Homo sapiens: one gene and its partners. The protein of the gene in region 3 interacts with the protein of the main gene of each other region in a biochemical or structural test. Each region holds a gene or a part of one and is shown on either strand. Other genes may lie near its edges.

Region 1 (8,188 bases), about 29 Mb from region 3:
TACAGTGCTAAGTGGGGGAAGGCTGAGGACAAAAGGGTCCATGGGATTGAGGGAGAATCTTTAAGAAAGCTCTGGACATGTCGATGTGCTATATGTGTGGACAGAAGAGAGGTAGGAGACAAAGAGGGTTGAGGAGTAACTGAAAGAGTAAGGCTCCTTAGAAAGGAAAAAGGGTTGAGAGAGAGTCAGAGCTTACAGAGGATCTGCAGGACTTATGGGGAGACCCTGAGGGCTGCCTCGAGGCAGCAGCCTGACTATGGAAAGTGTGACTTTTCTACAGCAAGTGCTCAGCTAGACCCTGGTTTGCACTAGCTTGCTACAATTTCAGAAATGCTGTGAGCTCTCTTTGGAATATTTACACCATGAAAATAGGCAGATGCTATAAATCAGCCTCCATCCCAGAGCCAATTGTGTAACATTTACCAGGACATCATAGGGAGGAATGGTCTAATTCAGGATCTGGGGCTCACAGAAATAGGAGGAAGTGAGGGAATTAAAGACGGCAAGAGAGGATGAAGCAACAGATCATCCTCTGGGACTAGCTGACTAAGGAAGGGATGTGTAATCGACTGGGAGACAAGGTGAGGGCAGGGAGGTGAAGGCTTGGTCAAGGCTGGGGTTGATGAGCAGGTGTAATGGGAACCAAGCAGGGAGGACAGGAGCAGATGGACTCAGGAGGAAGAGCTTCACTGAGGATTCTGGGGGAGGGAGAGTAAAATGGGCACATGGACCAGGGCATAGGCCTTGGAGGAGGGGAGGAGGGGAAGGTCATTGTAGTCTCAAGGCCAGAGTGTCATCATGGGTCAGCCTCAGTACAGTGGAGTCACACTGATGACCAGGGTAGGGGTGGGAGTGAGGAAAAAACAGTGTGATTCTGATGCCCAGATCTTTAATGAATGGAGCAGGGTGATCAACAGTTCCTCAGATGTTTGGGACAAACATATCAGCAGGAGCTGGGCAGAGGACAAGATCTTCAGGGGAGGGGAAGGAGGAATATATGTCCAAGGACAGAAGTCCCCATCAGTGTTGTGTTTTTCTTCTACTGAAAATAAAATGTACTTCCTAGATCTGTCCATTGAATCAGTGACCAACTCAGTATCAATGAACAGCTCAGTCATCTTCCATTGAAACAGACTAGGGCTCTTTAGGGAAATGGCTAATTCCAGGTCTAGGGCAGAAAAAATGCAAGCTGAGCCTGAAGCATCTTATCAGATCAGAAAGCAAAGAAGAGCTCAAGATGCTCCAGGTTCTGCCAAAGATCTCAGAAGCCAACTGGAAGGAGTACCCACTGGCCAAGCCCAAAACAATGATGTCTGTGATGTGTTGGAACAGCAAGGATGTCTAAAAATAATGACATTACCATGGTACTCAAACAGCCTCAGTGGTCACGTCTGGAAAGAATGCTAGAGAACTGACTCTTCCTCTGATAAATAAAGAGGAATATTGAACATCTTCCCTGCCTTTGCTGTACAGATTCTATTTAACCAAACAGCTAGTGGTGAAATCATTTTAGAATGCTAGTGAATAAATGAAGGAGGTATGATAGGATTAGAATATCCCCACTTCAAGCCCCAGTGATATAATGGGTCCAGGCCATGGTCAATGGCTGCCAAAACCAGCAGGTGAAAGGCCGATGGGTCACTTTGTAATGGACAGAGCAGGCTGACAGCACATGAATTCTGGTCAATCTTGACACCACAGAAAAGAAGAATTCTTTCCAGGCCAAATCTGCACCCAGGAAGTACAGGGAACAGAGGGACACATTAAATGGCACTGTGGAGATGCAAACTCCAAACTACAGGATACACCTGGGGACAATCTGGTGTCTTCACTAAATAAATGGAAAGAAAAAAAAGCAGTGGAGGCTTACCGAGTAAAGAAACCTAATAGGCAAATCGACCATATGCAACGTGTGCTCCTTCTGTGGATTCTGCTTCAAACAAACCAACCAAAAATTTACGAGGCAGCCAGCAACATTTCAACACTAAGTAGATATTTGATGATATTAAATGATTTTATGTGTTATAATGGATTGTGGGCTTTTTTTTTTTTTTTTTACAGTTATTATCTTCTAGAACTATATATTGAAGGATTTACAGATGAAGGGATACTGTATCTGGATGTTCTTCAAAATAATCTACAGTGGCCGGGTGCAGTGGTTCATGCCTGTAATCCCAGCACTTTGGGAGGCCGAGGTGGGTGGATCACCTGAGGTCAGGAGTTTGATATCAGCCTGACCAACATGGTGAAACCCCGTCTCTACTAAAAATACAAAAATTAGCTGGGCATGGTGGTGCACACCTATAATCCCAGCTTCTTGGGAGGTTGAGGCACGAGAATCACTTGAACCCGGGAGGTGGAGGTTGCGGTAAGCTGAGATTGCGCCACTGCACTCCAGACTGGGAGACAGAGAGACTCCATCTCAAAAAACAAACAAACAAAAATCCAAAAGAATCTACAGTGATGGGACAGTGGGTGAGGATGGAAAGAATCTAGGTTAGCTTTGGGGTGAAGCTGGGTCACAGGTACACAGGGGTTCATTATACTAACAGGGTTCTCTCTATCAATGTATGTGTTTGAAACTTTCCATGTTAAAAACATGAAAAAAACCCAACCCTAGCTCATTGCTTATTCATAGTAATTACTCAATAAATATTAACTGTCCTGTTAAAGATTTTTTTTTTAGGCCACAAAAATGGGGACTCACCCCCAACCCACAACAAGTAAAGAGAGTTGACTTTAAATAGAGGGCTGTTATGCTAAGCGAAATAAGCCAGTCACAGAAGGAGAAATACTGCATGATTCCACTTACATGGGGGTCTCTAAAATACTCAAATGCGTAGACTCAAAGAGTGGGATGGTGGTTTCCAGGGAGAAAGGGCGCTAGGAAATTGGGAATTGCTAATCAATGGGCATAAAGTTTCAGTTTGGCAAGATAGATGAGTTCTAGGGGTCTGATGTGCAACAGTATCACATGATATGTATCCATAGTTAATGATATGTAGTTAATGATATGATATTTACACTTAAAAGTGTGTTAAGAGGGTAGAGCTCATGCTATATGCTCTTGCCACAATAAAAGAAAATTAAAATAATAAATAAATGGAGGGCTGTGCTTTGCCACCCAGACCCTTGGTGTGGCAGGATGGGAATAGAACATGGGTTCTACCGTTTCCTTCTTCTGCACACATTTACTGAGCACCTATTATGTTCCAGGTGCCACAAAGCACAGGTAGGAGATGTAATGCCAGCCCTTTCTTCAGGCTTTTGGGCCGGGAGACAATGATGCCATTACTGAAGACCTAGCACAAAGCATCCCTTGCCTCTCCCCTTCATCCACAGACCCCTGCACAACCTCAGGCAGCCTGTGGAGATGAGTCCTTTAGCACCTGGCCGACTCTCAGACATATGCATAATCCACTCTCCGCACGGGGCCACCAAAGTATGCCTTCCAGCCTGGACACCAATTACTAAGCAGGGCTCACAGCCTCCCCCCTGCCTCCTCCTGCCTTCTCTCTCACTGTAACAAAGGCATAACATGTAGACAGTCAAATTTAGAAAGCGTGTGTATCTGAAGCACACAGCACAGCCTGATGGCTCTGCATATGCATGCACCAATGTCATCACTACCCAGGTCAAGGTATGGAACTGTCCCAGCCCTTCAGAAAGTTTTCTAGCATTCTCTTCCAGTTAGTACACTCACTGCACACACACAGATGGGTAACCGCTATCCTGGATTTTATCACCATTGATAAGTTTCCCCTGTTTTTGAACTTCATCTACACAGAATCAAAAGGTGTGTACACCTTGAGTTTCAGACCTGGCTTATTTTGCGCAGTATAACATCCATGAAATTCATCCATGTGTGCATCAGTAGTTTGCTATTTTTCCTTGTACCGTGGTCCAGTCTATGGATACATGGTTTATTTATCCATTCTCCTGCAGATGGCATCTGGCCTCATCTCTTGACCCCTCTTCTCATAGGCTACACGTTTTACGTCTCCCAAACCACAGAGCAACCCAGCAATACTGCTACTCCTGTGCCTACGTGTGTGTAGTTCCCTTTGCCCTCACACTTCATGATGCATATCTGAATATTGACAGTTACAGTGCATCGTGATAAAAGTACATGCAGAGTGTTTCAGAAGCACATGGGACATCTAAGTCTGGGGGTGGTCAGCGACACAGGCACTATCACAGAGCACAGACTCACAAGATAGGAGAGAGGCTCAGGTGTGGCTCACAGATGGCTGGAGTGGGACATTGGCTGGGCTGTCCTGGGACTTCTGATATCAGAGCCTCTGCCCAGCTTGTATGCCTTGAGGTGCATTTGAGGGGGGCCCTGGGCTCTGAGTCTCCGGGCTGCTTTGAGTGGATGGCATTTGGAAGGTGGAGGTCAGTGATGCTCGGTGATCTGCCCAACAAGAGAGAGCTGGGATCGAAAGCCTGGGAGCTGTGAGTGGTCACTAGGAGTGACAGGGGTGGGGCTGTTGTGTGTGTGTGTGTGTTTGTGTGTGTATGTAGGTCTCGGCAGACAGTCCACCTCTGGGCGTGGCTGGGGGACACTTACCAGGCAGCCCAAACCCAAACGCAGTGAGATGCTGCCGCCATGAAAACACGCAGGAGGGACACGGGCCTCTGGAGGCTCCCGGGAGAGGAGGAAGCTTCTCTGCAGTTGGGTGCTTGCCTGGGGCAGGGTTTCCCCAGCCCCTCCGGTACCCCTCACACCCGCAGGGAGGATGATCTGCATTCTACACAATTGGCCTAGACCTCTAGGGTCAGGGGATTCTTGCACGAAGCTTCTCAGCGCAGAGGCTTCAGAGGCTTTTATCAGGGACTTTTCCAACCTACCCAACTGTCCCAACGACGCAGCCCCGCCGCAGCCACGCCCCCTCTCTCTGGGTCCTCTCTGGAAGTCCGCAGGCAGCAGGCTCTCACTGCGGCCCCTCCCACACTCACTCTACAAGTCTGGGCTCCTCGGGGCATCCGGCTGAAGGATCCCGATGAGGAGGGCAGATTTAGACAATTCCCTGTGATTTTCCGTGGCACCCAGCCCGCACCAGCTTGCTGCGGTGAGGGTAGGGGATTGTACCTGGCATGGGCGGGGCTGCCAAGAGCACTTCCTTCACAGGCCCCAGGGATTGGTGTCACTACGTTCTATCTCCAAAGTGGAGCATCTCTGACTGAAAGGGGAGCACTACTAGCTATCCCACCGGTCACAGGCAAGGAACGGGACTGTCCTGGGTCACTATGCACGGAGCAGGCAGCTCAACTGGGCATCACCACGGAACGTGGGCAGGAGGGTGCCCTCCCCTCTCTCTCGGTGAGGGGCGTTCTACACGCACCTCCGCACCTCTGGCACCAGCAGCTTCCTGGGGGTCCCAGAGGAGCTGGTGCTGCCCTCCCCAGCCTTGCTCCCTGAAATCGCAGCATCGGGGCACTTGCGGTCTAATGAGCTGGTTGACCCTCTGCCTGCCTTGGGGACATGCTCTGCAGTTGTTCCTCACAGGGAAAGCGGGGCAGCTGGAAGTGTAGGGGATGATCCCCAGCTACTCTCTGGGATTCTCTGGATTTTAGGTGCCCACATCTGTGTCCCAGTGTCTCCCAGCCAGTGACTTGGGTCCTTAGATGCCCCCACAGTTCAGGACAGCCCTCCTGTGGTGCTGCCCCTCTGGCCTGACCACAGCATTCCAGGTTTACAGGTGACAGCCCATGGCTCACAGTGCCAATGTTCCTCTGGAACTCCGGGCCCTTCCCTGAGACTCTTGATGCCCTCCAGGCCGCTGTGGCTGCTGCTACCACCTGGCTTTGTGTGCGGAAGTGTGAGTGAGGGCACCCCAGGTCTGCTGTGGCCCTACTGGGTGCCTTTACTTCCAGGGCCTATGTGGGCCCATTCCTTGCTGGCATATACATTGTTTCTCAATCTCTCCGTCTCTGGTGCTCGTCACAGCTAGTGTGGTGACCAGGACCTGGGAGGAGGCAGGTGCCACCTCAACAGCCATCCTGCTCCTCCTGGCTGCCTCTTTTTCTGCCTCCTTTGGGTCTTTCAACGTCAATGCTCCCCAAAGCTCTGTCCTGAGATCCTCTTTTCTCTCTCCTCCTCTTTCTGGGAGACTGCACTCCATGCTCCTGCAACCATCCCCATCTTTGATCCCTGCATCCAAGTTTCCAATGTTCTCTATCCCCTACCACACACCTGGTACCTCCACACCAACATATACCAGCCCCTGGGGGTCCACATTCCCCCCAAAAGTTGCTGCTCAGTGTTCCCTGTTCCTTCAAAGGTATCTCCCTCCTCCCAGGCCTGGGCCTCATGCTGGGGGTGTCAGGACCTCCTGGCCCCCTCTCCTTCCTGCACAGCCTCCAGACCCCTCCTGCTCCAAATGGGCTCTGCCCTCCCTCTCTGCTGCTTCTGCCCTCCAAGCCATACTGGGGCAGATCGGAATATTTTGTTTCCTTGTTTGGCCTCTGTCCTGTTTGCTCATCATTGCCAGATTCAACTCAATTCAGCTCCACCAGTGTCCCTGGGCTCTGCTCTGAGGCACTCGGAAAGGTGCCCTGAGAAGCCTGGTGCAGCACAGACCATTAGGAAGGAGGATTTAGGGCCTCCTCCACCCCCCAATTCCCTACACCACATGTGAGGCGCAGCAGAAATGTAAGGATTGAGAAAGAGCTGTGCGTGCCAGCAAGGAGCAAAGGTCATGGAAATTAAGGGATGACTTCCTGGAAGAGGGAGTCACGTGACGTGGACCTCAAAGAAAGCAGTGGCCTTTTGCAGTGTTGATTGGAACAAGGAAGAGTTAGAAAAACCTAACATTCAGCAGGATCAACGCACTGTGGAATACTCTCAAATGTACTGCTGTGAAAATGGCCCAGCATGGATAAATCTCAGCCACATAATGTTGGGTGAAATGGCAAATTGAAGAACGGTGATACGCATGGCAAGGTGCCATTCATATAAATCTCAAAGACAAACAAAACAGTATATTATTATGGATACAGATGTTTGTAGTAAGAGTATGAACATCTGTATAAGAGTGATATACTCCAGATTTATCTCTGGCGAGGCAGGGAGAGAAAGAGGAAGGGACAGGAGGAGGGGATCTAGTTATGGCTTGTTCTATTTATTTGAAAAGAGAGAGGAAGGGGTCTGAGGCAAATATGGCAAAATGTTAACATCTGTTCAGTATAGGTGATTACAGGCATGTGGGTGCTTGTTTTATTGTTTTCTCCTTATTTGTGCATTAAGCTAAAATTTTAAAGGAAGTTAAAAGGAAAAAAAAACAGGGAGCTGGCATTCTACACAGGTTGGGCGTTCCCTACAGGGGCCCAGTGTGAACCGAGGGGCAGGGGTTGAATGAGGGCACCCAGGAGCCCAGCACAGCTGGGCAAGGCTGGAGCAGGGGCTGGGGCGATGGGCCTGGGGGATGGGCTTGGATGTCTAAAGGGGCGGGCACCAACTTTCTCTTCCCTGCTTACTTGCCTGCTTCTCCTAGTGTGTTGCTTAGGGTCCGTTGCTTGCCCCATCCCTGCAACAACCTTTGGCTGGATGATTTTCAAGGGTTACTTATTCATTCCTTACCCTATATTGAGTATCCACTACAAAAGCTACAGTTCCACGATGGCCCTATAGATAGGCATGATTACCATCACCCCATCTCTATTTTATAGATAAAAAAGCCAGCAGAGAGGGGTTAAGGGATTTGCCCACGGTTACGCAGCTAGCGGGAGGGAGGCAGAGCTGGGATTGGCGCCAGAGCCTGTGATCCTCACTGCAGTGCTCTCTTTTGCTCCCCACATACCAGGCCCATGCTGAGTGCCGTGGACTCAGTGATGACCCAGGTGACACAGCCCTGCCCTCACACAGCTTCTGGGCCAGTCCCAGAAACAAAACAAGCAGCACACAGATGTAATTACAACCAATGATCTAGTGAAGGAAGCGAACCTTGTGCTTCAAGGGAGAAAACAAGGACACCACTGAGGGTCATGGGTCCAAGAAGGTCCCTCTGAAGAGGGAACATTTAAGCCAAGACCTAAAGGATAGAGTTGGCCAGGAGAGATTGGGAAGGACAGCGAAGTCGGAGAGAATAGCAAGTGCAAAGGCCTGAGGACAGGCAGGGGCTCCAGCAAGAAACCAGAAAGGGTCAGAGGGGAGGAGCCCAGAGCAGAGGGAAGCGGCAAGACCGTG
Region 2 (8,796 bases), on a different chromosome or scaffold from region 3:
TCCCTTCCCCTCTTTTCCTCTCTCCTTTTCCATCTCTTTCCCTCCTCTCCCCTCTCCTCTACTTCCCTCCTTTCTCTCCTTTCTTCTGTTCTTTCTATAGTCTGCTTCCTGTACTTTTTTGAAACCTCTCCGTTAAGGACTTTACACTAAAGAGGCAAAAAAAACTCTGCCTCTGGTCCCAGCTCTTCCTAAGGACCCTTCCGACTTTGGAATTTCTTGACTCCAACTCACTGCTTAGACCCTTATCCTGGGCCTCTCGAATAATAACTAGATTTCTTTGTCAAAAGACTGACTGTACTGCCACAAAGTCATCAATCCATTGGAAGAGGTTTTCCTTTAAATTCTGTCAAGATTATATTTTCTCCATGGGTCAATTAATATAAAGAGGTTAATAAAGTTCAACAGAGATAAACATTAGCTGTAACTAATAAAGTCTGCATTCATTGGGTGAATTGATTTATTTACACAATGCCTTTATTCTCAATGGAGTTTATGTGCTAGGTTCTATGCAATGACTCCAATGTCAGAGTCTTGGTCCAATAGAACATACTGTACATAAGTAACTGCAGTACAAAGGAGGCAGTGGCCAATACCCTGAGAAATAAAGAAATACAGTGCTAGGGGTTTCTGACATGGATTTCAAAAAGCTCTCTAGCAACGCTGAGCACCCACAGCAAAATGCTTGCCTTTCTTTGTATTATCCAATTTGGCTGCCGCATTAGCCAGAGTTCATTGGGTAATTGCACAATCCCTTGTGAGGCTTTTATCTTAAAGGCTTACCCTTGGGGAACTAGAGTGCCTCAGATATCTGGTGCACAGAGCAAACTATAGAAAAGCAGAAAGGATCTTTGATTCTGGAGTACACAGGAAATGCTAACGATGCCCAAGGTAACCATCATGTACTCATGTACACAGCAATGAGTACACTGAAAAAATATATCATCTTTCCTCCAAAATGGAGGCTGCTCATGTGATCCCAGGTGGATAGGAGGCAGAGTGATATAATGAATGAAAGCATGTGCTTTTGAGTTAAAAGGGACCTGGGTTTAAGTTTCAACTCTGCCTTTTAGTCTCTTTTATTACTGCAGCCGTCTGAGCTTCAAACTCTCATCTGCCAAAGGAGCACTGGAGTGAGTATTGATGAAAAAAAAATGGATGTTAAGTGATTAACTTGGTGCCCAACACATGTGAAGAGTTCAGTCAGTACTAGCTAACAATCACAATAAGATTTGTGACAATAATGTACAAAACTCAGATAATTAAACAGGAGCCTTCTTTATGGTCAAGTGAAAGAAGATGGGGCCATTTCATCTGGAGAAGAGCCAACCAGAAACACATGAACAATTCTATTTATTTTTATTACACAAGTAGTACACATTCATGGTAAAAAAAAATTACAATGTAATACAAGCTGAAATAAACTTAAATAATGAACTTTACCACCAACCAGACATAGCTAAAATTTTGCATATATGGTTTTTTTATCTTTCTTGAAATATATACAAATATTTTTGAACAAAAATGAGCACACTTATAATGCTGTTTGTATCTTGCTTTTTTCTTATTTCGTGTCATGATCACCTTTCTTTGCCAACTAACAACATCAATGTCATCATTTAACTGGATACAGAATAGCCAATTATATAAACATTATGAAATTTGTTTAACCAATTTCCCACAATAGCTATTATTTAAGTTGTAAGAAAGGACCATGTGCCCTGGGCTCAACCAGATTGGACCAGTTCTGGTTCCACCTGGGAAAGATCCTATGTTCTCTTGGTCTCATCTTTACCATCTTTAAAATAAGAATTACATCCTCCAGTTCTTAAGGCTAGTATGTGGATCAAATGAACTGATGCCTGTAAACATGTTTTGTAAATAGTAAAGTACTATGTGAATGTTTACATTCATTAAAGAAGGTACTAAACAGGTGTTCTCCACTGAGTCAAAACAAGAAGAAATTAGATTAACATGCTGTTGGTCTCATTGGGATGATTCCTAGCCTGTAGCAGGCTGAGTGCAACAGCAAATGCTTCAGTGTGGTTTAGGCGCTGTGGCTCTGTTTTCAGTCCCTGATGGGAGAAACCAGAACGCAGCCCTGGCATAAACTCTATCCACTTTCCTCCTGAGGATATGAGGTCCAGAGAAGGTAAATGCCATGTCTATGTGGCTCCTGAAAGCCAGAGTGAGCCACCTTCTGCCTCCAAATCCAATCCCATCGATCTTCGCTGTGCCCACAGTGTGTTAGTGAACTGGCCAGCTATTAAATGCCCACCTTGTGTTTAATCTTGAAGAGTTTTAAAAGGAAGCCTGGCTGCCTTGGTAGATTCTAGCAGATATGGGCGTGATTCAGATACATTTAGAACACACTTGAGCCTCAACTTCTCTAACTTTTAACCACCGAAGCACTGGAAACAAATCCATCTCTTTAAAACATTAGTAAATCGAAACACAAGTAGATTCTTATCTCAAGAGTTTATGTGGCTGAGTAGATGATAGAAATTTCTAGAAGTCTTATGTTTCCCACAAATTATTTTATAATTTGCATTATTTATGTAGTGTTGAAAGGGAGATTTGGTTGGCTTGCCTTAAATTATACCTCCCTTTCTCCTAATACATATTACTCTCAGGTATATTTCAGAGACAGAAAAATATTTTGAATGACCTAGGTCATCTGTTTTTATGCTGACCACCCATTAGAACCACCTGAGAAGTTTCTGGAAAACAAGATAAAATACTGCAGATGACTCACTGATCTCCAAAAGTTAAGCTTCAGTTATTCTAGGGGTAATTTTCTAATCTCCTCAGAGTCGGGTGATTCTGGCCAGATGTGCAGCCAGGGTTGAGAAACACTGATTAGGGTCCCAGTGGGGTAAGGAACAGATTATATGCTCATGATCTCACATACTCTTTCATTCTCATTGTGCCTCTGAGCAAAACCATTGAAATATATGTGCTCAGATTTAACTTCTTCTACCCCTAAAACAAGACACTGAATGGAAAAAATATATCTTATATAATAGAAGGACCCAAACTATGAAAAAGAGGATAACAGCCAAAAATGGAGGAAGTATAGTAAAGTTCCTCAATGCAATAATATGCAGCAGCTTTAATTTATGATTACAAAGAATTCACAGCAACATGGAAAAACCATAGACTGATATGGAGGAAATGAATACAAACTTGTCCATAGTGTAGGGACGCAACTATGAAAACTAAAGTTATATGTGCATACACACACACACACACACACTCACACACACACACACACACACACACACACACACACACACACACACACACACACAAAGGGACGATCCCCAAAATATCAATAGAGGCTATTTTGGTGGAGAATTTGGCTTCTTTCAACATTTTTATACTTCCACAGTATTTTTTAAACTACCATGTACATGATAGGAAAATAACATTTATAGTAGAACAAAACAAATTTACTTTTAAAAAATTACTCCTCTGACTATTATGTGATCATCAAGTCATGATGCTCAACACTGAATTAACAAAACAAAGATTAAAATGCCCACCTGAAGGTCTCTGTCTTTCAGCTGCCCTGGCTTCTGCTGCCTCTATCTCTCCTGCCTTTCTCCTCCGAGTAATTCAGGTTGCTCATTTCAAAGAAAAGTGAAAGAGCAAATTATATTTATGAACAGTGCCAACCAATAGCAAGCAAGTCAGGAAGTGTAGCAGGTCATCTGTGCTTTTTAGAAGCCATTGTAGATGTTAGTGCAAGCTCCCTTCTCAAGAAGGGTGAAAATTTCCAGTTAGGGGCTATGTCTAAAAAGAAGAAACCTAAAATTGCCCTGCCCCTCTAATGACTGGTTTTTTGTCATTATCTTTCTCAAGAGATCAAGCGGATATGATGGGTTAGAGTCAGGAATTTTAAGTGGCTTTTAGTTCTCCTAAATGGTTTCTGTTTCCATGGCAACAGAAATAGCAACATTGCCTTACACACATAGCACTTTAGACTTTTTTAAAGCACTTCCCTCACTCACTTGCATTTTCAGCTCACTTGCACTCAGGCAGAGACCTTATCCAGTCTGCTGAAAATGTTCTGTCAGAGGTCACCAAAAACCTCCTTGTTGCTTACATAAAAAATCCTTTCTCAGTCCTCACCTTCCTTCCCCTCTTGTTTGCATAGTTGACCATTGCCACTTTCCTGAAACTTTTCCCTTTTTTCTCTGACTTTCCTGGTTCTTTTTCTACCCCTCAGATTGCTCTTCTTTGCCTCTCTTTCTGATGCCTCTTCTTCCACCCCTTTTCTACGTGTGAGCTTTCCCCAGAGGTCTGTGTTCTGACTTCTTCCCTCCTTCTCTTGCTTTTACCTATCTGATCCACAATCATGGCCAAATTTAATGTGGCCCAGGTGGAGCTTTTCTCTTCCTCTCTTAGTCCTGCATCCCCCCATCTACCCTGTCTAAGCAAATGGCACCACAATAATTTAGCCAGTTCATCCATCCATAAACCTAGAAGTCACTTTTAACTTCCCTCTTTCTTCCACCACCCACTTCTGAGCCAACAAGTTCCATTTGTTCTGCCCATAAAATATGTTCCAAATCGAACCATTACTCATCTCTCCATCACTGTTCAAATCCTCGTTTCCTGCATAGAAAGCTGCAGTAACATTAAGCAAGAAAAATAAGTAAAAGGGATCCAAATTGGAAATAAATAAGTAAAATTTTGTCTGTTTGCAAATGATAAAATCTTATATGTAGAAAAACCTGAAGATACCATGCACACACACACACACAAAACCCCAATAGAACTAATAAGCAAGCAAATTGAGCAAAGTTGCAGGACAGGAAATCAATACACAAAAATCAGTTGCATTTATATACACTAACAATAAACAATCCAAAAATGGAAACTAAGGAAACTATTCCATTTATAATAGCATCAAAATGAATAAAATACTTTGGATATATACTCAGTAGTAAGGTTACTGAATCTTGTTGAGATCTCTGCACTCTCATGTTTACTGTAGCACTATTCACAATAGCCAAAATATGGATCACCCGAAATGTTCATCAACAGAAAGATGGATGAAAAATGTGGTATATATTCACAATTGAATACTATTTACTGATTTAAAAAGAACAAAATTTGTCATTTGTGGCAACATGGATGAGCTTGGGAGACATTATGTTAAGTGAACTAAGCCAGGCATAGAAAGATAAATACTGCATGTTCTCACTCACATGTGGAAGCTAAAAAATTTGATCCTATAGAAGTGGAGAGTAGAATAGTGGTTACTAGGGGCTGGGAAGAGTACTTTCTAGGGGTGAGGGTGAGTGGTTTTCTGTGCAGCTTCTTCATGCAGCTGTGGAGAAGGGGCTGGGACCAAGGTTGCTCCTCTGAAGACAAGGTTCTTCCTGGGTCTGGGATTCTATTTCTAGTATTTTATTTATCCCAATTAGAACTCACAGTACACAAATGTTATATTACCATTCTCATCTTTAGGGGGCAAAAAGCTTGAAACAACATTTCATTCTACAAGCAGTCACTATAGATATTCATTCTTCTCCAATAAAAGCCCAATTGGCCAGGCGCAGTGACCTCACGCCTGTAATCCCAGCACTTTGGGAGGCCAAAGTGGGCAGATCACGAGGTCGGGAGTTGGAGACCAGCCTAGCCAATATGGTGAAACCCTGTCTCTACTAAAAATACAAAAATTAGCCAGGCATGGTGGCACGCGCCAGTAGTCCCAGCTACTTGGGAGGCTGAGGCAGGAAAATCATTTGAACCCGGAAGGTGGAGGTTGCAGTGAGCCAAAAAGCCCAATTAATTGACTAATGTTCATCTCATTAAAATGAATAAAGTGGGCTGGATGGAGTGGCTCACCCCTATAACCCTAGCACTTTGGGAGGCTGAGGCAGGAAGATCTCGAGTCCAGAACAGACTGAAAGCAGTCTGAGTGACACAGGGAGACCCCATCTCTAAAAAAAAAAATACAAAAATTAGCTGGACATGGTGGCATGTGCCTATAGTCTCAGCTACTCAGGAAGCTAAAGTGGAAGGATTGCTTGAGCTGGGGATGTTGTGGCTGCAGTGAGCTGGGATCACACCACTGCACTCCAGCCTGGGTGACAGAGCAAGACTGCCTCAGAAAAAAAAAAAAAAGGCTCATGCCTAATCCCAGCACTTTGGTGGGCTGAGGCGGGTGGATCACGAGGTCAGGAGTTCGAGACCAGCCTGGCCAAGATGGTGAAACCCCGTCTCTACTAAAAACACAAAAATTAGCCTGGCGTGGTGACAGGCACCTGTAATCCCAGCTACTTGGGAGGCTAAGGCAGGGAATTGCTTGAACCCGGGAGGCGCAGGTTGCAGTGAACTGAGATCGTGCCACTGCACTCCAGCCTGGGTGACAGAGTGAGACTCTGTCTCCAAAAAATAAAAAATAAAAATAAAAATAAAAAAAATTAAAAACTTTAAAATAAAATAAACAGTGAAAAAAAATCGATCCTACACTCCGAGAGCTAACTTTTGAATATTAGGTTTTCAAGGAGCAGAATATGTTTCAAGAGTATTAGAAAGATAATGAGGGAAATGCTTTCTCCCTACTCCCTGCTTCTGAATCTGTAAACCTCAGAGAAAGGAGAAACCTATTCAAGACTTTCTTTTATTTTTAGGACAGCCTGGGATCTCTAAGCACTCCATAGGCAGTAAATTTGCTGGAGAGTGCCCATTAGACACTCTTTCTTTGTACAATTTGGACAGATGATATAAAGAGATGCAATGTCATTTTAACCGGATTTGTCAGGATGGAGCAAGAAATCATTCATTTAGAGTAGATAGGGAAAGGGTCGATGACTTTAAAAAGAAGATAATCCTAGGGAGCAGAGAAAGGAATAAACACATTATCCTATGTGCTGCTCTTGATGATTTAAAGGAAAACATGGAAGCGTGTTTAATGTATATGGCACACAGAGAACTTCTCCGGAACTTTCAAAGGCCTGCAGAAGTAATCAAGAGATGAGAATCAACTCCAGTTTTGTAGGAGACTTCCAAGTTTGTTCTCAGTTGAACAAAGTGAGTTTAAGAGAATCAGGGCCAGTTTCTTGCTGATTACAGTAATGTACCAGCCACAAGGCCTTTAGTTAGACTTTTAGAGACATAAGCTTGAGTCTAGAGGATATATTCCTATAAGCACAAACCTGTGATTTTCAAAAGATCAGAAGCACTATTAAGTTACTAAGGCATCAGAGACAGTAGTTTGTTTTCATAGTGCAAGGTTAAATACAAAGGAAGAAGTCAGCGTGAATCATGTTTCTATTTAGGTCATTAAGAAAGTGGAAGAACAGGCTGGGCGCAGTGGCTCACGCCTGTAATCCCAGCACTTTGGGAGGCCGAAGTGGGCAGATGACGAGGTCAGGAGTTCAAGACCAGCCTGGCCAACATGGTGAAACCCTATCTCTACTAAAAATACAAAAATTAGCTGGGCATGGTGGCAGGTGCCTGTAATCCCAGCTACTTGGGATGCTGAGGCAGGAGAATCGTTTGAACCTGGGAGGTGAAAGTTGCGGCGAGCTGAGATTATACCGTTGAGCTCCTCAGCCTGGGCAACAAGAGCGAAACTCCATCTCAAAAAAAAAAAAAAGAAAGAAAGGGGAACAATGGAAACAAACTTGAAACCTCATGGAATTTAGAAAGCAACCAACTTTATGTGTAAGAGAGCCTGTTCTGTGATAAGACAGAGAAAAGAATTACGTAGTGTAGTGGGCTACACATTGGCACCAAAGACATGCCCATATTCAAATCCTGGATTCTGTAAATGTGACCTTATGTGGCACAAATGGTGGTTAATTAAGGATCTTGAGGCAACGAGTTTATTTTTCATTATCCAGGTGAGCCCAAAATACAATTACATGTATCCTTGTAAGAGAGACGACAAAGGAGTGTCAACAAGCTCACACAGGGGAGAAGGCCATGTAAAATGATTAAAGTGATGCAGCTATAAGCCAAGGAACACCTGGAGCCACTAGAACTGGTAAATCAATGAAAGACTCCCCCTAGAGCCTTCAGAAGAGGGAGTGCAGCCCTGCTGGCATCTTGATTTCTGACTTCTGCCCTCCAGAACTGTGAGAGAATGAATTTCTGTTGCTTTAATTTAAGCCATCAAGTTTGCAGTACTTTGTTATGGTAGTCCTAGGGAACACATCTACATTTCCCTTCTCCAACCAAGGGAACCCAAAATTCAGGGAGAAAGTTATAAACTTGCCATAAGATAACGCAATAGACTTAACTAATTCATAGTGAGCTTGCATCCTTTTTAGTTTGTTTCGATTTTCAGTCTCTCATATGTAATTCTCCCTTCAAAAAGAACAATTTAGCTTCCCAAGCAGTGTCAGCTCTCTGGAGAGGTGATGAGGCTGGAGTGAGCATTAATGTCCGCTCCAGTCCAATCAGAGTTGGGAGAGAAAGTAGCCGGAGAACTGTGCAGTGCGTGGGCCACATGACACCCTCTCCCCACTCATCCCTGGCGTCCCCCCACATACACATACATACACACTTACCTCTTTAATTTTTTTTTAGTATGTTGAGCAAATTGGAAGATTGCCAAATTAAGGATTCCAGAAGGGGGTTTTTCCAAAAGGGAGTTTTTCTTTGCATAATATCGTATGAGAGTGAGAATCAGGAGATTCTGGTTTGAACCCTAAGAGGCCCAGCCAACGGCCCTTGGAGAGGAGCAGGCCCATGTCCCACGGCATGATTTATATCACAAGTTTCAGGCAGAGCAGTCTTTGTGGAGATCATTGAGGACTGAACTCTGACCTCTTTCTC
Region 3 (6,495 bases):
GATCACTTGAGGTCAGGAGTTTAAAACCAGCCTGGCCAACATGGTGAAACCCTATCTCTACTAAAAATACAAAACATTAGTGGGGCATGGTGGTGGGCGCCTGTAATCCCAGCTACTCAGGAGGCTGAGGCAGGAGAATCGCTTGAACCGGGAGGTGGATGTTGCAGTGAGATGAGACCCTGCCTGGGTGACAGAGCAAGACTCCGTCTCAAAAAAAAAAAAGTTCTCCATCATTGCCATTGTCATTGTGATTTTAGGTAGGGAGTCATAACCACTGCCCACTCACATCCAGCCAGCACATCGCAGTTTCCGAAGTACCAAACACATTCCACTCCACCTCCCTTCTGCAGGAAAGGGTCCTGAAGCTCTCTAAGATGGCTTTGACATGGGTCCACAAATTCTTTGACATTCCTTTCTTCAAGAGGTGGAGCCTAATTCCCCTCCCTTTGAGTGTGGACTGAACTTAGTGACTCATTTCTAATGAATAGAACAAAGCAGAAGCAACAGTGTAAGGCTTCCAAGACCGGGTCATAAGAGGCACTGTTTGTGGCTTCCTCCTTGCCCTCTCTTCTGTCTCACTGTGGGGAAAGCCAACTGCCATATCATGAGAAAACTCAAGCAGCAGCTCTAGGGTTAGCCCTACATGGTGAGGAACTGAGACCTCCTACCCACAGCCATGTGCATGAGCAGTATTGGAATGGATCCTCCAGCCCCAGTCAAGCCTTCAGATGACTGCAGCCCTAGCCGACAACTTGACTGCAACCTCATGAGCGACCCTGAGACAAGAACAGCCCAGCTTAGCCCCTCTCAAATTTCTGACCCACAGAACCTAAGAGATAATGAATATTTGTCATTTTAAGCTGCAAATTTTGGATAATTTGTCACACAACAATAGATAACCAATACACTGTCTTTGGCCCATGTAGTAAAGGTCTGTTCTTCTCCAGGGAAAGGTGCCCTAGTCCTTGGTCTGGTCCATCTTGGGACTGCAGGGGCCACCCCAGGACCCAAAGGCCAAGGCACAGACCACATACACTGGGCCGGGCTGCCTGTGTGCTCACAGGCTGTTTATTTATCCAAGAGTAAGGAGGAGAGAGACAGGATGAAGAGAAAAACCAGACTCCCCACGGTGGCAGGGCTGAGGGGAAAAACAAACAGAAAATCTCCTCTTCTTTCTCTTGCTGCTGACCCCAGGGTACTCCAGCTTCAGATGGGACCTCTGGGGGTGGCTTAGGGGCCTCGAGGAGGCCCGGCAGCTCAGCTGTTGGCTGGGGTCAGGATCCGCACAGGGGCAGGTCCCAGACTCGGAATGGCTTCTGTGTACACAAAATATCTCTCTGCAAAAGGCACTGGTGGAGGGGGGCAGCAGGAAGGCCACCCCATCACAGGCAGAGTCCACTCTGTCCTGCGTCTGGGTCCTGGGCCCCAAGACCAATCCAGTCTCCCTCAGGGTTGGGGTTTCGGAGGCCCTTGTTCCTCTCCTCTCCCTTCCCTCAGCCCAGGGGTGAGCAGGCAGTCGGTGGAGGCCCAGCTCAGGCCATGTCATGGACACCCCTCTTCAGGGCTAGTGCATCCGGCGACTTCTAGGCCAACAGCCCGAGGCGGGTGACTTTGGCCGACAGGAAGGAGTGGATGATGAAGACTATGGTTTTGGGACACGAGTGCAGGTCCAGCTGCTGGAGGGTGGATGGAGAGAAGAGTCAGGGCCCTGGCCAGCCTGGCCTCCGAGAGTGCACACCCCCTCCTCCCCAGGGTGCAGAGGCAGCCCCTCACTCACGATCTCGCCTTCAGCACCTCCAAAATCCAGGAAAAGGAGACTGGCACCGTCATCTGAAGACATCTGCAGCTTCTCGAAGGGCTGTCGCAGGAGCACAGCTCGGGCTGCACCTGGCTCAGCCGCCCACAGTGTGAAGCCCTTGTCGATGTGCACAGACAGGCTGCAGGGACGCCCATTCCACGTGCAGGCTGCAGGGAGGGCACATAGGTACAGGCACAGCTGGCACCTCAGAGACTACACCCCAACCTCCAACCCCCACCGCAGCTTACAAAGTGGGGCCTGAATGCCTCCAGGGATGGGAGGCTCACTGTTTGTCGTGGCACCAGTACACCCACCCTGCAGAGAGTCATCACCCCCACCCTCAGAGGACCTACACCCACTTCCAGTCCCACTTCCAGCAGCACAAGTAGAAAGGGGGAGCTTAAAATGTGCCATGGACAGGAGGCTCACTGCTGATAAAGGCATCATCAGATCTACCAAGCACCGCCCTTGGAGACCTGCAGAGTTACCCGGCTAAATTTAAATTTCAGATAAACAATGACTAATTTGGGCATACTTCTGTGAAAAAAGTATTCATTGTTAACCTGAAATTCAAATGAGGCTGGGTGTCCTGTATTTATTTCCTCTGGCAACCCTACCCCAAGTGCCATCTCTCACATCCTCACCAGCAGATTGACAAAACTGGGGCAAGAAAACCCCAGGGAGAAGAGTCTCTGCCTGCTAGGGCACCTGCACATCCAAAACAGAGGGCCCAAACCCAACTTCCTTTTTTTTTTGGAGAAACAGTCTCACTCTGTTACCCAGGCTGGAGTGCAGTGGGCGCAATCTCGGCTCACCACAACCTCCATCTCCCGGGTTCAAGTGATTCTCGTGCCTCAGCTTCCTGCGTAGCTGGGACTACAGGCACCTAGTACCATGCCCGGCTAATTTTTGTATTATTATTTTTTTTTTTTGAGACAGTCTTGCTCTGTCGCCCAGGCTGGAGTGCAGTGGCACAATCTGGGCCCACTACAACCTCCACCTCCCAGATTCAAACAATTCTGCCTCAGCCTCCCGAGTAGCTAGGACTACAGGCGCCCACCACCATGCCCGGCTAATTTTTGTATTTTTAGTAGAGACAGGGTTTCACCATTTTGGCCAGGCTGGTCTCAAACTGCTGACCTCAAGTGATCCACCCGCCTCAGCCTCCCAAAGTGCTGCGATTACAGGCGTGAGCCACCGCACCTGGCCAATTTTTGTATTATTAGTAGAGACAGGGTTTTGCCATGTTTGCCAGACTGGTCTCAAACTTCTGACCTCAGGTGATCCACCCACCTTGACCTCCAAACCCCATTTTCTATCCCCTCCTGAAGTGCCCTAAAGAAGGAAGCTTGAATGCCCCTGGGGATAAGAGGCTTATTACCAGAGGGACACTCCCAGATCCTCCCAGCACACCTGTAGACACCTCCTGCACACCCTCGGCGGCCCGGTGACAGCCATCCACAAGCTGGCGGGTCCAGGCAGCCAGCTCCTGCGGTGACTCCACGCTGAACAGGTGAGTGTCCACACCGTGACGCGTGCCCGTGCGCAGGGCAAAAGAGAGCTCTGCATCGTAGGGCACTGAGCCCTTGGAGGGGCCTGAGTGCACCAGTCTGGGGGTTGGGGGCAGAGGGCTGAGCATGAGGCCTCAGGCCGGAGGCAAATAGTTCTGGGCAAAGGGGCCAGTGACCTGGGAAGAAACCCTGTAAATCCTTTACCACCTAACAGGACAGGACTTGCCAGGGGGCACTGATTGACTCAGCAGGAGACATCTCCTGCCACCCTCCCCGTCACTCCCTTGGCTCTGGCTATACTGGTGTCATCACACACACCTAGCACATGCCTGCCTCAGCACCTTTGCATATGCTCTTCCCTCTGCCTATACATGCTTCCCTGATTATCTGCACGGCTCACTCCCTCACTTCCTTCAGATGTTAGTTTAAATGTCACCTCCTCTGAGAAGCCTTCCCTGACCTCCCAGTCCAAAATAGCACCCTTGTCACTCACTAGCCTTACTTTTTAATCATGGTACCAGAAATTATACTTTTTATTATTTGTTTTCGTTGGTTTTTGACTGTCTTTTTCACTAGAATGTCAACTAGGTTAGAAATTTTGATCTTGTGTTCACCACTGTATTCCCAGTAACTAAAACCATGCCTGCCCACAGTAGGTGCTCAGTAAACTTTTGTTGCCTAACTTGAATCACTTGATTAGGCAGACAGTCCAGGACCTAGTTATCCCTAGTAGCCAGCAGGCTCCTGACACACGGGCCAGAGCCAGCCTGAGGTAAGGAGACATGGGGGACAAGGACTTCAGACCCCTGCAGCTTGACTCTCACTTGCTGTGTGGCCTTGGTAAGCCAACTGCCCCTCTCTGGGGCAGAAAGTTCTGCCCCATATCCCTCTTTGTTCCTCCCTCCACCCACTCTTTCTCCTATAGCTCAGTTCCCCCCGCCACAGACTGCTGCTGACACCCGCCTTCGACTTTCCAGCCCTGAGCTGCAGACCCTCGAGTCCCCAGGCTTCCTATCCAAGCTCCCTCTCCATCCCACACACACTCTGGACTTAACTCAGCATCTTGCTCCAGCCTCCTCCCTTTCCACCCCCACCCCCAGTCCCACGCTCACCCAGACACAAGCTCCAAACCTCCTGTTCATTCCGGACCCCTCCTTCACCCGCCCCATCTGGCAAGCACGGAGCCCTGTTAATTTTACACCCATGTGGTTTCCAATGCCAATGCTGCCTTTCTTCCCCATCTGCTCCTGCCACCCACCTCCACCTCCCCCAGCCACCATCATCTCTCCTGCATGACTGCAGCACCTCCCCACTTCCATCCTGCACTCTCCGCTGCATTCTCCACGTGGCAGCCACAGGGATTCTCTTAAAGCAACCAGAGCACCTCGCTCCCCAGCTTAAACCCTTCAACACTACCAAACTCTTAAGCTAAAGCTAACATTCCTTAATCAGGCAATAGAAGCTCTTCAAGATCAGGCCCTGCCAACTCCCTTCTCTCCATTTCCTGCATGAATTCTGGTTATCACAAACTCATAGCTCCATGAACATGCTATAGCCCTTCATGCCTCTGTACTTTTGACCATGATGTTCTCTCTGCATGGGATGCTCTTTCACCCTTTCTTAAACAGAAAACTTCTACTCATCCATCAAAGTCCAGCTCAAATGTCACCTCCTCCCTGAAGCCTTCCTCTACTACCCCAACAGAGTTAAGTGGCTCCTACAAACCCTGCACTGTAATGGCTGTTCCTGGGTCTGTCTCCCCAGCCAGACAAGGTTCTCTCTGGAGGCAGAAACTGTTGGGGTCAGCTCTGTGCCCTCTGAACCATGCAGCACAAGGCATAAGTGTCAGCGAATGAGTGGCTAATGGGGACCTTATATCCTTTTGTTCCAAGCACCCATTTTACAGATGAGGAAACTGAGGCCCAGACAGGGCAGAGACTTGCTTCAGGTCACCTGGGGAATAGCTGAGGGTGGACAGGGCTGGAGTTCCCAGCTTCTGGGGCCCTGCTGGAGCATCTCCTGGCAAGTTCTGGGGGAGACATACTGCCCCTGCCTGTGGGTACCTGGTGGCGATGAGTGGGGCAGTACGGGCTGGCCGGCTCAGGGCCTCGCGGGTCTCGGGGAGAGACAAGTAGAGGAGCAGTTCCTTTTCAGTTAGCAGGGCCAGGGTGGGGGCTGTGCCCCCACTGGGCAGCTGCAGAGAACAAAACAGCAGTGAGGATGGGTGGGGGAAGAGAGGGCAGAGGGCCAGGGCAGGGTGAGGTGGCCAGGGGCACTGGGAACAGGGCCAGCTCCAAAGGAGCGGAAGAGAGAGAGGGATAGGTCCCAGGCCCAGCAGGTACCTGCTCAGTTAGCCAGCCAATCTGCTTGATGTCCTGGCTCCCAGCTGTGCTGGTGGCTGCCAACAGTGCCTGCAGCTCATCCTTGACCCGCGGCGTCAGAGTATTGACCTGGGCTTGGATGGCAGTCGCCCACGACCTCGCACTAGCCTCATCCTTGGCCCTCAGGAAGAGGGTGTCTTGACCATCTGCCGAGCAGATCTCCAGATACCTGCAGGCACAAATGGGTGGAGACAAGGACCTGACCATTAGGCTGCAGCTGCCCAACCCTGGCCCAAGAAACCCCACCCACCACCAAACCAGGAGAAACCAGGGGGATGTCCGTGAGAGAATCAGGAGCAACCCTCACTGCTGGGCTCCAGCCACAGTTGCTGGGGCTTCATGGGGCATAGGAACAAGCGAGTGTGACATATACACACGTGTTCATATATTTTGTGGGGTTTTTGTTGTTGTTTTTGAAACAGAGCCTCGCTCTGTCACCCAGGCTGCACTGCAATGGCCCAACCTCTGCCTCCCAGGTTCAAGTGATTCTCCTGCCTCAGCCTCCCAAGTAGCTGGGATTACAGGCACACGCCACCACACCCATATAATTTTTGTATTTTTAATAGAGATGGGGTTTCACCATGTTGGCCAGGATGGTCTCGATCTCCTGACCCCGTGATCCGCCTGCCTCAGCCTCCCAAAGTGCTGGGATTACAGGCATGAGCCACCATGCCTGGCCTTATTTTTTTATTTTTAGTAGAGATGGGGTTTCACCAAGTTGGCCAGGCTGGTCTCGAACTCCTGACCTCAAATGATCACCCCGCCTTCGCCCTCCAAAGTGCTGGGATTACAGGCATGAGCCACC
Region 4 (8,384 bases), on a different chromosome or scaffold from region 3:
CTGAGCTGTGGATTACAGTGTCCTTGGGGCACTGTTAGGTTAATCTGTAGCTATGTGGCAATATGAAGTACTTTCGAGTGATAAGTAAATAGCTCAAGGGGGTGGGAACTACGAGGTGACTGCTGTGTCATTTTAATGTCTCTCTGGGCCTGATAATTTAAAAGGACTCCGCATTCCTCAGATGATGATTATTATTATTTTCTCACTATGAGGCCTCAGACTTTAAAATCCCTCAAACTGGCCCAGGCACAGTGGCTCATGCCTGTAATCCCAGCATTTTTGGAGGCCAAGGCGGGCAGATCACCTGAGGTCAGGAGTTCAAGACCAGCCTGGCCAACATGGTGCAACCCCATCTCTACCAAAAATACAAAAATTAGCTGGGTGTGAGGGTGCACGCCTATAGTCCCAGCTACTTGAGAGACTGGGGCAGGAGAATCACTTGAACCCAGGAGGCAGAGGTTGCAGTGAGCAGAGATTGCACCACTGCACTCCAGCCTGGGTGACAGAGCTGAGCAACAGAGAAAGACTCCGTCTCAAAAAAAAGAAATAAAGAAATTTTAACAATTAAAAATAAAGAAAAGCATAATACTGTAATAATACTCCAATGAAAGGAGTAGCTGGAAGCAGTAAGCGCCTCAAATCAGGATCACCTGGAGCACTTGAAACCTCACCACCCCCACCCACACACCCAGTGTTTCCAGTTTTACTGAATCAGTCCAGAGTGGATGCTGGAGAATCTGCATCTCTTAGAATCTCCCAAGTGATGCCGATGCTGCTGCTCTGAGTGCTATGCTTTGAGAACAGCTGCCCTAAAGCACACTAATAGTTGTTACACATGCATCATCTCCAACTGCAGGTACTTTAAGAATTTCCCTTGAGAAACTCTAGCCTTCCAGAACAGGGAGCGCCTTCTCCATGCATTTCCGACAGCACCTGAACTGGAAGCAGCTCAGTACAGCAGCTCCAAAGAGGCTGGGGAGCCAGTCTGCCCAGCTTTGGAGCCTGCTCTGACACTTGATTGTTGTGTGAGTCCAGGCAACTTAACCACTCTCAGCTTAAGTGTCCTCGGAGTAAAACAGAGGTCTACTAGCTCCTTCCCTTCCATCAGGGAAACCGGAAATGAACACCTACTCAAGTCATCAATGGGAGCGCATCACTTCCTATTTCCCTGCCACCTACATTTTGAAAATGCAGGGGGAGAAAAATATAAGGAGGCAGGAGTCACATCTGTAATCCCAGACTTTGGGTGGCCGAAGCGGGAGGAACACTTGAGCCCAGGAGTTCAAGACCAGCCTGAGCAACAACATAGAGAGCCCTATCTCTACAAAAAAAATTTTTTTTTATTATCCGGGCATGGTGACACACACCTGGAGCCCCAGCTACTCGGGAGGCTGAGGCAGGAGGATTGCTTCGGCCCAGGAGTTGGAGGCTGCAGCAAGCTATGAATGTGTCACTGCCCTCCAGCCTGGGTCACAGCTTGCACAAAGCAAGATCCTGTCTCAAAAAAAAAAAAAAAAAGTTCCTTGCCCTGCCTGAAGTTGAGGAGACCATTTGTCTACCTCAAGTTATTATTTGCAGAAACCACACCCATATTCCTTCCTCCTCCACGTGCCCCTCTCCTTAAGAGAAAGGCCGCCAAACAACCAAGAGAAGTTCCTACACCCACTGAGTGTACCACAATCGAAACAAGAGTAAGCGACTCATCCTCTTGGAATCCCCTAGGTCAAGCTTGTCCAACCTGAGGCCCATGGGCTGCCAAATTCGTAAGCTTTCTTAAAACATCAGATTTTTTTTTGCGATTTTTTTTTAGCTCATCAGCTATCATTAGTGTTAGTGTATGATTAGTGTTAGTGTATTTTATGTATGGCCCAAGACAATTCTTCCAGTGTGGCCCAGGGAACCCAAAAAATTGGAGACCCCCACCCTAGGTTGTCCCATAATAAAAGGCAATATCAACATGTGGGAAAGATGAGGCGGCAGAGGTCAAGAAACAGAAGATCTAATAATCATCCAAGTGAGATTGAAGCCCTTCAAAGGTTCAGGCTTATGTAGTTAGCAGACGGAATTCCCCCACACACACCCGCCACTCCCCCAAGACGGAGTCTCACTCTGTCACCCAGGCTGGAGTACAGTGGGGCGATCTCAGCTCACTGCAACCTCCGCCTACTGGGTTCAAGCAATTCCCCTGCCTCAGCCTCCTGAGTAGCTGGGATTACAGGCGTGCTCCACCACACCCGGCTAATTTTTGTATTTTTAGTAGAGACGGGGTTTCACCATGTCAGCCAGGCTGGTCTCGAACTCCTGACCTCGTGATCCACCCACCTCTGCCTCCCAAAGTGCAGGGATACAGGCGTGAGCCACCGCGCCAGGCCAAGATGGAAATTTTAGTTACTACTGTCACCCGAGTCTTTCTCCGTTTGTTTCCTTGCACAAAATGGGTAGGGCTGTGGGCCCTCCCAGCTCAGGAGCCCTGGGGTGGTTTTAAGAAGGTAGAACTCCTGGTAGGAACCACCTGCATCAAGACCATGGATCACCTCTCTGAAGGTTAGCGATTCCAGGGACCCCACCTCCGAGCTGTCCTCCTACGTGGAAGTGAAAGTATTGGAAACAGGGGAAAGAAGCTGGTCAAAGACAGACTCCAGTCGTGGCGGTGCATGTCCCAGTTAAAAGCAAATCCTGGAAAATCTTGTTCAAGAACAGGGTCCCCATTCATAAATGAAAAATAATAATAGTGTTATTTTACCCACATGAAACTTGCCATAACTAGGTACCACGACCCACATGGACACACAGTGAGATTCCCACAAAGAGGCAAAAGGAGAGCCCTGGTCACTGAGACAAAAGATACAGAGACACCGGGACACAGAGAGGTACAACGGGACGTGGAGTTGGATCGAGCTGTCTCGTAAGGAATATCGGAAGGGGTGGGGACACTACTGGGAGATGGCATAGGTCCAGGACACTAATTAGGCTTTGGCTGAGATCAGATAAAGGAAACTGTTCGTAAGCTGCTTACTTAAAAAGAAAGGAAAAGGTGCGTTTGAGTTCAGGAGACTGCGAGTCCCAGAGCAGGAGGCGGGAGCCAGCGAAGGGTGGGCGTGTAAGGGGTGCAGTCGCTTCTCCCGCTGGGCAAGAGACTCCCCCTTTCGGCAGCCTGGGTTCCCCGCCTCCCCACCTCCTGCTCCTCCTCCCCCGAGCCCTAAGGGCCCGCAGGGCCTCCAGTAGCAAAGCCACTGGCCCCGCGTCCCCGCGTCCCCCTGCGCCGCGCCCCGGGGCGCAGGCAGGGACCACGCGGCCGGCGTGGGGGCGGCGCCACCCGCAGCAGAAAGCCCCGGCGTGGACCGCGTGGCGTAGGAAAGCGCTCCCCTCGCCCCCAGCCGCAGAGGGCTTGGGCAGCATCGGGCGCGGCCCCGGGAGAGTGCGTCCGCGGCGCCAGCGGCTGCAGGGTGACCTGTTTCGGGCGGGGACACTCACCAGAAGAACACGCGTGAGCAGAGGTTCGCGTCCTGCAGCGGGTTGGGCTTCACCTCCTGGTACACGGGCAGCATCTTGCCGGGCGGGGCGGGCGCGGGCCGGGGTCGCGCTGATCAGGCGGCGGTGGCCGCGGGCTCCGCTCCTGGACCTCAAGCAGGGATGCTGGGGCTCCGGCCGCCACGCCTGTCCGCTCGGCTGGAGCCTGTGAAGCAGCCGCTTCCGGGAGCCGGGCGCCGGCGGCACGCCCCGTCCCCGCCTCTCAGGCCCGCCGCCTCGGGGGCGCCCGCTACGCGCCGCCGCCTGGAGCCCGGGAGCTGCGCACCGCGTGCGAGCGCGGCCGGGACCGACGGGTGACGCGGCGGGAGGAGACGCGGCGGGAGGAGGCGAAGCTGGCGACGCCAAAGGGAGCCCAGAGCTACGCCCAGGGGTGAGGCGAGGGCCGCCTGCGCCGCTGGATGGAGAGGGTAGCAGAGCGCGCGGCAAGGAGGCCGGGTCCGGAGGTGCCCACGTGCACGAACCCGAGTGAAACTTTCCGAAATTCACTATCCGAGTCTAGGCGCCGACACAGAAGGTGGAGCAGGGAGGCGTCGGCTGTGCCCGCCCCTGCGCCGCAGAAACGCCCCCTCGGCTACGGGTTTGGGAAGACTGGGAGACAGCTGCCTCGTGCTCTAGCAGCCCGCCCCCTGGGCGCCTTTCCCTTCTCAGGACCAAACGACGGTGCCATGGGAGGCTCTTCAACCTGTGAGCCAAACATTTGACCTTGGACGACAGCAAAGTTTAGCCACAGATTATCCTTGTAGAGCTGCAAGACCTCAAGAAAGCCGGGTAACTCGAGAGTATGACCCAGATGAATTCGGGAGATGGATGAATGCTGTCGTCGATGGGGGCGGGCTTTAGGCATCTCACATGTTGCATGCTACGGTGGACCTCTGAGCTTTTTGCTGCCCCCTTAGATTGGGAAAGGAATATAAGAGGAAAGAGAGACTGCCTGATGATTTCTGTCGTCAAGCCCTAAAGCCTAACAGATAACAGTGGCAAACGACACGTGGGTTCCAGAATACCAGTGATGTTCATGTGCATTTCTGAGTGCGTAGCCTCACTAGTGTGTGTGTGTGTGTGTGTGTGTGGCAGTCTCACACACAGTGTCACGATTATGGCTCATTGCACCCTCGACCTCCCAGGGCTCAAGCAATCCTCCCAACTCAGTTTAAGTAGCTAGGACTACAGGCACCCGCCACCACACCCGGCTCATATTTTGTAATTTTTGTAGAGATGCAAAAATCAAAATCAAAGGCTCCAAGTTCAAATACTGATAATTTTTGAAGCCAAATGATTGTCATGGAGGTTTATTTTCTTCATATTTCATGCATGTTTGAGAATTTGGTTTTCTTTGTAATAAGATCATTTTATTGTTCCTTGATAATTTCTCACTTTGTTGCCCAGGCTGGTCTCAAACTCCTAGGCTCAAGTGATCCTCCCACCGTGGCCTCCCAAAGTGCTAGGATTACAGGCATGTACCACCACGCCCGACCAATTATCTCACTTTTAATTCTATCAGTGCCCCATTCAAGGTTATCCTTACTTTATAGATGAGGAAGGTGAAGCTGAAAGGCAGAACTTGTCCAGTCTTAGAGCCAAGAAAGGATAAAACATGATTTGCAATAAGCCTATGTCTAAGCATGGCCTGTCTCCCTGGTGGATGGCCAGTGTGCATGAGAAGTGCCCAGAATATGCTGGTTGAATGGCTGTAGGAATGAATGAACAAAATCTTGTTCCAAGCTTGTGTACTCCCACCTCTAAGTCTTCAGTCATTTCTGTGGCTACCTTAACAAGGTCAGCAGCTGCTCTTCATATCCACCCTGAATGAAAAAAAATGAAAGGCTCCAAGTTCATGGTGCTTGGAACAAGATCATTTTATTGTTCCTTGATAATTTCCCATGTATATTTGCTAAAATAGTATAGTTAATAGCTTTTAAAGAAAGCCTTACACAAACACATATTTAAAAGTCAAGCACAGGCTAGCCAGCATAGTGAGGCTCTGTCTCTACCAAAAGTTTTAAAAATTAGCCCAGGTGTGGTGGCGTACCCTTGTAGTCCCAGCTACTCGAGAGGCTGAGACAGGAGGATGGCTTTAGCCCAGGAGTTCCAGGCTACAAGGAGTTAAGAAGGTGCCCACTGGGCTGGGCACAATGGCTCACGCCTATAATCCTAGCACTCTGGGAGGCTGAGGCAGGTGAATCACCTGACGTCAGGAGTTCGAGACCAGCCTGGCCAACATGGTGAAACCCCATCTCTACTAAAAATACAAAAAATTATCTGGGTGTGGTGGTGGATGCCTGTAATCCCAGCTACTCAGGAACCTCAGGCAGAAGAATCACTTGAACCCAGGAGGCGGAGGTTGCAGTGAGCCGAGATCATCCCACTGCACTCCAGCTTGGCAACAAGAGTGAAACTCCGTCTCAAAAAAAAAAAGAAGGTGCCACTGCACTCCAGGCTGTACAAGCCCATAATCCCAGCACTTTGAGAGGTGGAGACAGGAGGATTGCTTTAGCCCGGGAGTTCTAGACCAGCCTGGGCAACATAGGGAGACCTCATCTCCACTAAAAATGTGAAAATTAGATGGGCATGGTGGAGTAAGTCTGTAGTCCCATGTAACCTGGAGGCTCAGGTGGGAGGATTGCTTGAGCCCAGGAGTTCTAGACCAGCCTGGGCAACAAAGGGAGACCTCATCTCTACTAAAAATGTAAAAATATGATGGGTGTGGTGGCGTGAGTCTGTAGTCCCAGCTGGAGGTTCAGGTGGGAGGATTGCTTAAGCCCAGGAGTTGGAGGCTACAGTAGGCTATGATCACACCACTGCCCTCCAGCCTGGGCTAAAGAGTGAGACTCTGTCTCAAAAAAAAAAAAAGTCAAGCACATAAGAATGGCAAAATATTGATAATTTTTGAAGCCAAATGATGTGTCATAGGGGTTTATTTTCTTACATTTCATGCATGTTTGAGAATGGTTTTCTTTTTGGAGATGGGCTCTCAGTATGTTGCCCAGGCTGGACTCAAGCTGCTGGGCCCAAGGGATCCTCCTGCCTCAACCCCTCCAAGTACCTGGGATTGTAGGCACTCGCCAGCATACCAGCTCATGTTTCAGAATTTCTGTCACAAAAAGGAACACAATATTTTAAGTTGACTACTGTGGGAAAGCTATGATCATTCAATAACCTACCTTTCTGATAGCTCTTTCTCAGATAATATAAGCTATAAACCAAAATAGTCAGCCTTCACCTGATTTACAGTGCCCTTTGAAACTTCCTAAGTTTTCTAGCCCAGTAAATGCTGAGCTACCAGTTCTACTTCCAAGCTAGAGAACCTGTTTACTAAAGTTAGAAGTCTAGTGACTTCCTCTGTCAGACTGTCCCAGAATGCTCTCCCTACCCCCAACAACTGTGTAAGAACCGTCATTAGCCATCTCCAAATTGCCAAAGTGCTCAGTCCCTTCGGCTCCTGCAGAGGCTTATTTTTTTCTTAATTAAGATCTTTTGGAACTTCTTAACATTCTTTTCTGAACATTAACAATGTGGTGTTTGGAAGAGATACTATAGAGCAGTGTCTGACTGCAGAGAGGAGTGGATATGGAACCAGGGGGCCAGGGCTTTATATCTTTTCACTTGTTACCTAACCTTTCTGACCCTTATTTTTCTCAGGTCTAAAATGGGGTCGGGGCGGGCGCAGGGGCTCATGCCTGTTATCCCAGCACTTTGGGAGGCGGAGGCAGACAGATCACCTGAGGTCAGGAGTTAGAAACCAGCCTCGCCAACATGGCAAAACCCCCTCTCTACTAAAAATACAAAAATGATCTGGGCGTGGTGGCATGTGCCTGTAATCCCAGCTACCTGCGAGACTGAGGCAGGAGAATTGCTTGAACCAGGGAGTCAGAGGTTGCAGTGAGCCGAGATCATGCCACTGCACTCCAGCCTGGCGACAGAGCGAGATTCTGTCTCAAAAAAAAAAAAAAAAAGATAAAAATTAGCCAGGCTTGGTGGCATGCGCCTGTAGTCCCACCTACTTGAGACGCTAAGGCAGGAGAATTACTTGAACCTGGGCTGCAGAGGTTGCAGTGAGCCATGAGCCAAGAGCTCGCTGCTGCACTCCAGCCTAGGTGACAGAGCTAGACTCCATCTCAAAAAAAAACAACAACAATAAAATGGGGTCAGGCAGGGCATGGTAGCTCACACCTATAATTTCAACATTTTGGGAGCCCAAGGCAGGAGCATCACTTGAAGCCAGGAGTTCGAGAGCAGCCTGGGCAATGTGATGAGATGCCGTCTCTACAAAAAATAAAAATAAAAAATAATAATAATAATAGTAATAATAATGTTTTTTAAATTAGCCAGGCATGGTGGCACACACCTGTAGTCCTAGCTACTCGGGAGGGTAAGATGGGAGGATCACTTGAGCCTAGGAGTTTGAGGCTGCAGTGAGCTCTGATTGCACGACTGCACTCCAACCTGGGAGACAGAGTGAGAGACCCTGTCTCTAAAAACATAAAAATACATGTAAAAACAAAATAGGGATCAGAATCCCCACTCTTCCTTCTTCACAGGATTATTGTGAGTCTCACAACTTGTGAATACACTCTGAAGGCAATATACAAATTAAAGGATGGGGGTTTTTTCCCATTCATTCAATAAATCGTTAGTGAACGCCTTCTGGATACATGACAGCTAGGCCAGGGAATGAGCCTGCAAAGACGAGGAAGATGTCTTCTTTTTTGTTTGTTTGTTTGTTTGTTTGTTTGTTTTTGAAACAGGGTCTAGCTCTCACCCAGGCTGGAGTGCAGTGGTGCAATCTTGGCTCACTACAACCTCCCGGGCTCAAGCCCATCCTCCCATCTCAGCATCCCAAGTAGCTGGAACTA

The links.
Region 1: the proteins of SNTA1 (region 3) and ADRA1D interact in a test that uses a peptide from one of them, tested with the Homo sapiens proteins (2 studies listed by BioGRID and IntAct).
Region 2: the proteins of SNTA1 (region 3) and CYSLTR2 interact in a test that uses a peptide from one of them, tested with the Homo sapiens proteins (2 studies listed by IntAct, with this or other methods).
Region 4: the proteins of SNTA1 (region 3) and ABCC4 form a complex in vitro, tested with the Homo sapiens proteins (2 studies listed by BioGRID and IntAct, with this or other methods).

The regions. Positions count from the first base shown.
Region 1 is NC_000020.11:4,238,368-4,246,555, forward strand, and holds part of ADRA1D (alpha-1D adrenergic receptor), read right to left. Parts: intron 1-8,188. UniProt on the Homo sapiens protein: This alpha-adrenergic receptor mediates its effect through the influx of extracellular calcium.
Region 2 is NC_000013.11:48,648,764-48,657,559, reverse strand, and holds the start of CYSLTR2 (cysteinyl leukotriene receptor 2), read right to left. Parts: upstream 3,632-8,796; 5' UTR 3,543-3,631; intron 1-3,542. UniProt on the Homo sapiens protein: Receptor for cysteinyl leukotrienes. The response is mediated via a G-protein that activates a phosphatidylinositol-calcium second messenger system.
Region 3 is NC_000020.11:33,406,924-33,413,418, forward strand, and holds the end of SNTA1 (alpha-1-syntrophin), read right to left. Parts: exon of another isoform or gene 5,860-6,495; coding exon 5,652-5,859; exon of another isoform or gene 5,504-5,651; coding exon 5,373-5,503; coding exon of another isoform or gene 5,263-5,372; exon of another isoform or gene 3,409-5,262; coding exon 3,212-3,408; coding exon of another isoform or gene 3,180-3,211; exon of another isoform or gene 3,130-3,179; intron 1,966-3,129; coding exon 1,778-1,965; intron 1,677-1,777; coding exon 1,584-1,676; 3' UTR 1,034-1,583; downstream 1-1,033. UniProt on the Homo sapiens protein: Adapter protein that binds to and probably organizes the subcellular localization of a variety of membrane proteins. May link various receptors to the actin cytoskeleton and the extracellular matrix via the dystrophin glycoprotein complex.
Region 4 is NC_000013.11:95,297,767-95,306,150, forward strand, and holds the start of ABCC4 (ATP-binding cassette sub-family C member 4), read right to left. Parts: upstream 3,686-8,384; 5' UTR 3,549-3,685; coding exon 3,475-3,548; exon of another isoform or gene 3,185-3,474; intron 1-3,184. UniProt on the Homo sapiens protein: ATP-dependent transporter of the ATP-binding cassette (ABC) family that actively extrudes physiological compounds and xenobiotics from cells.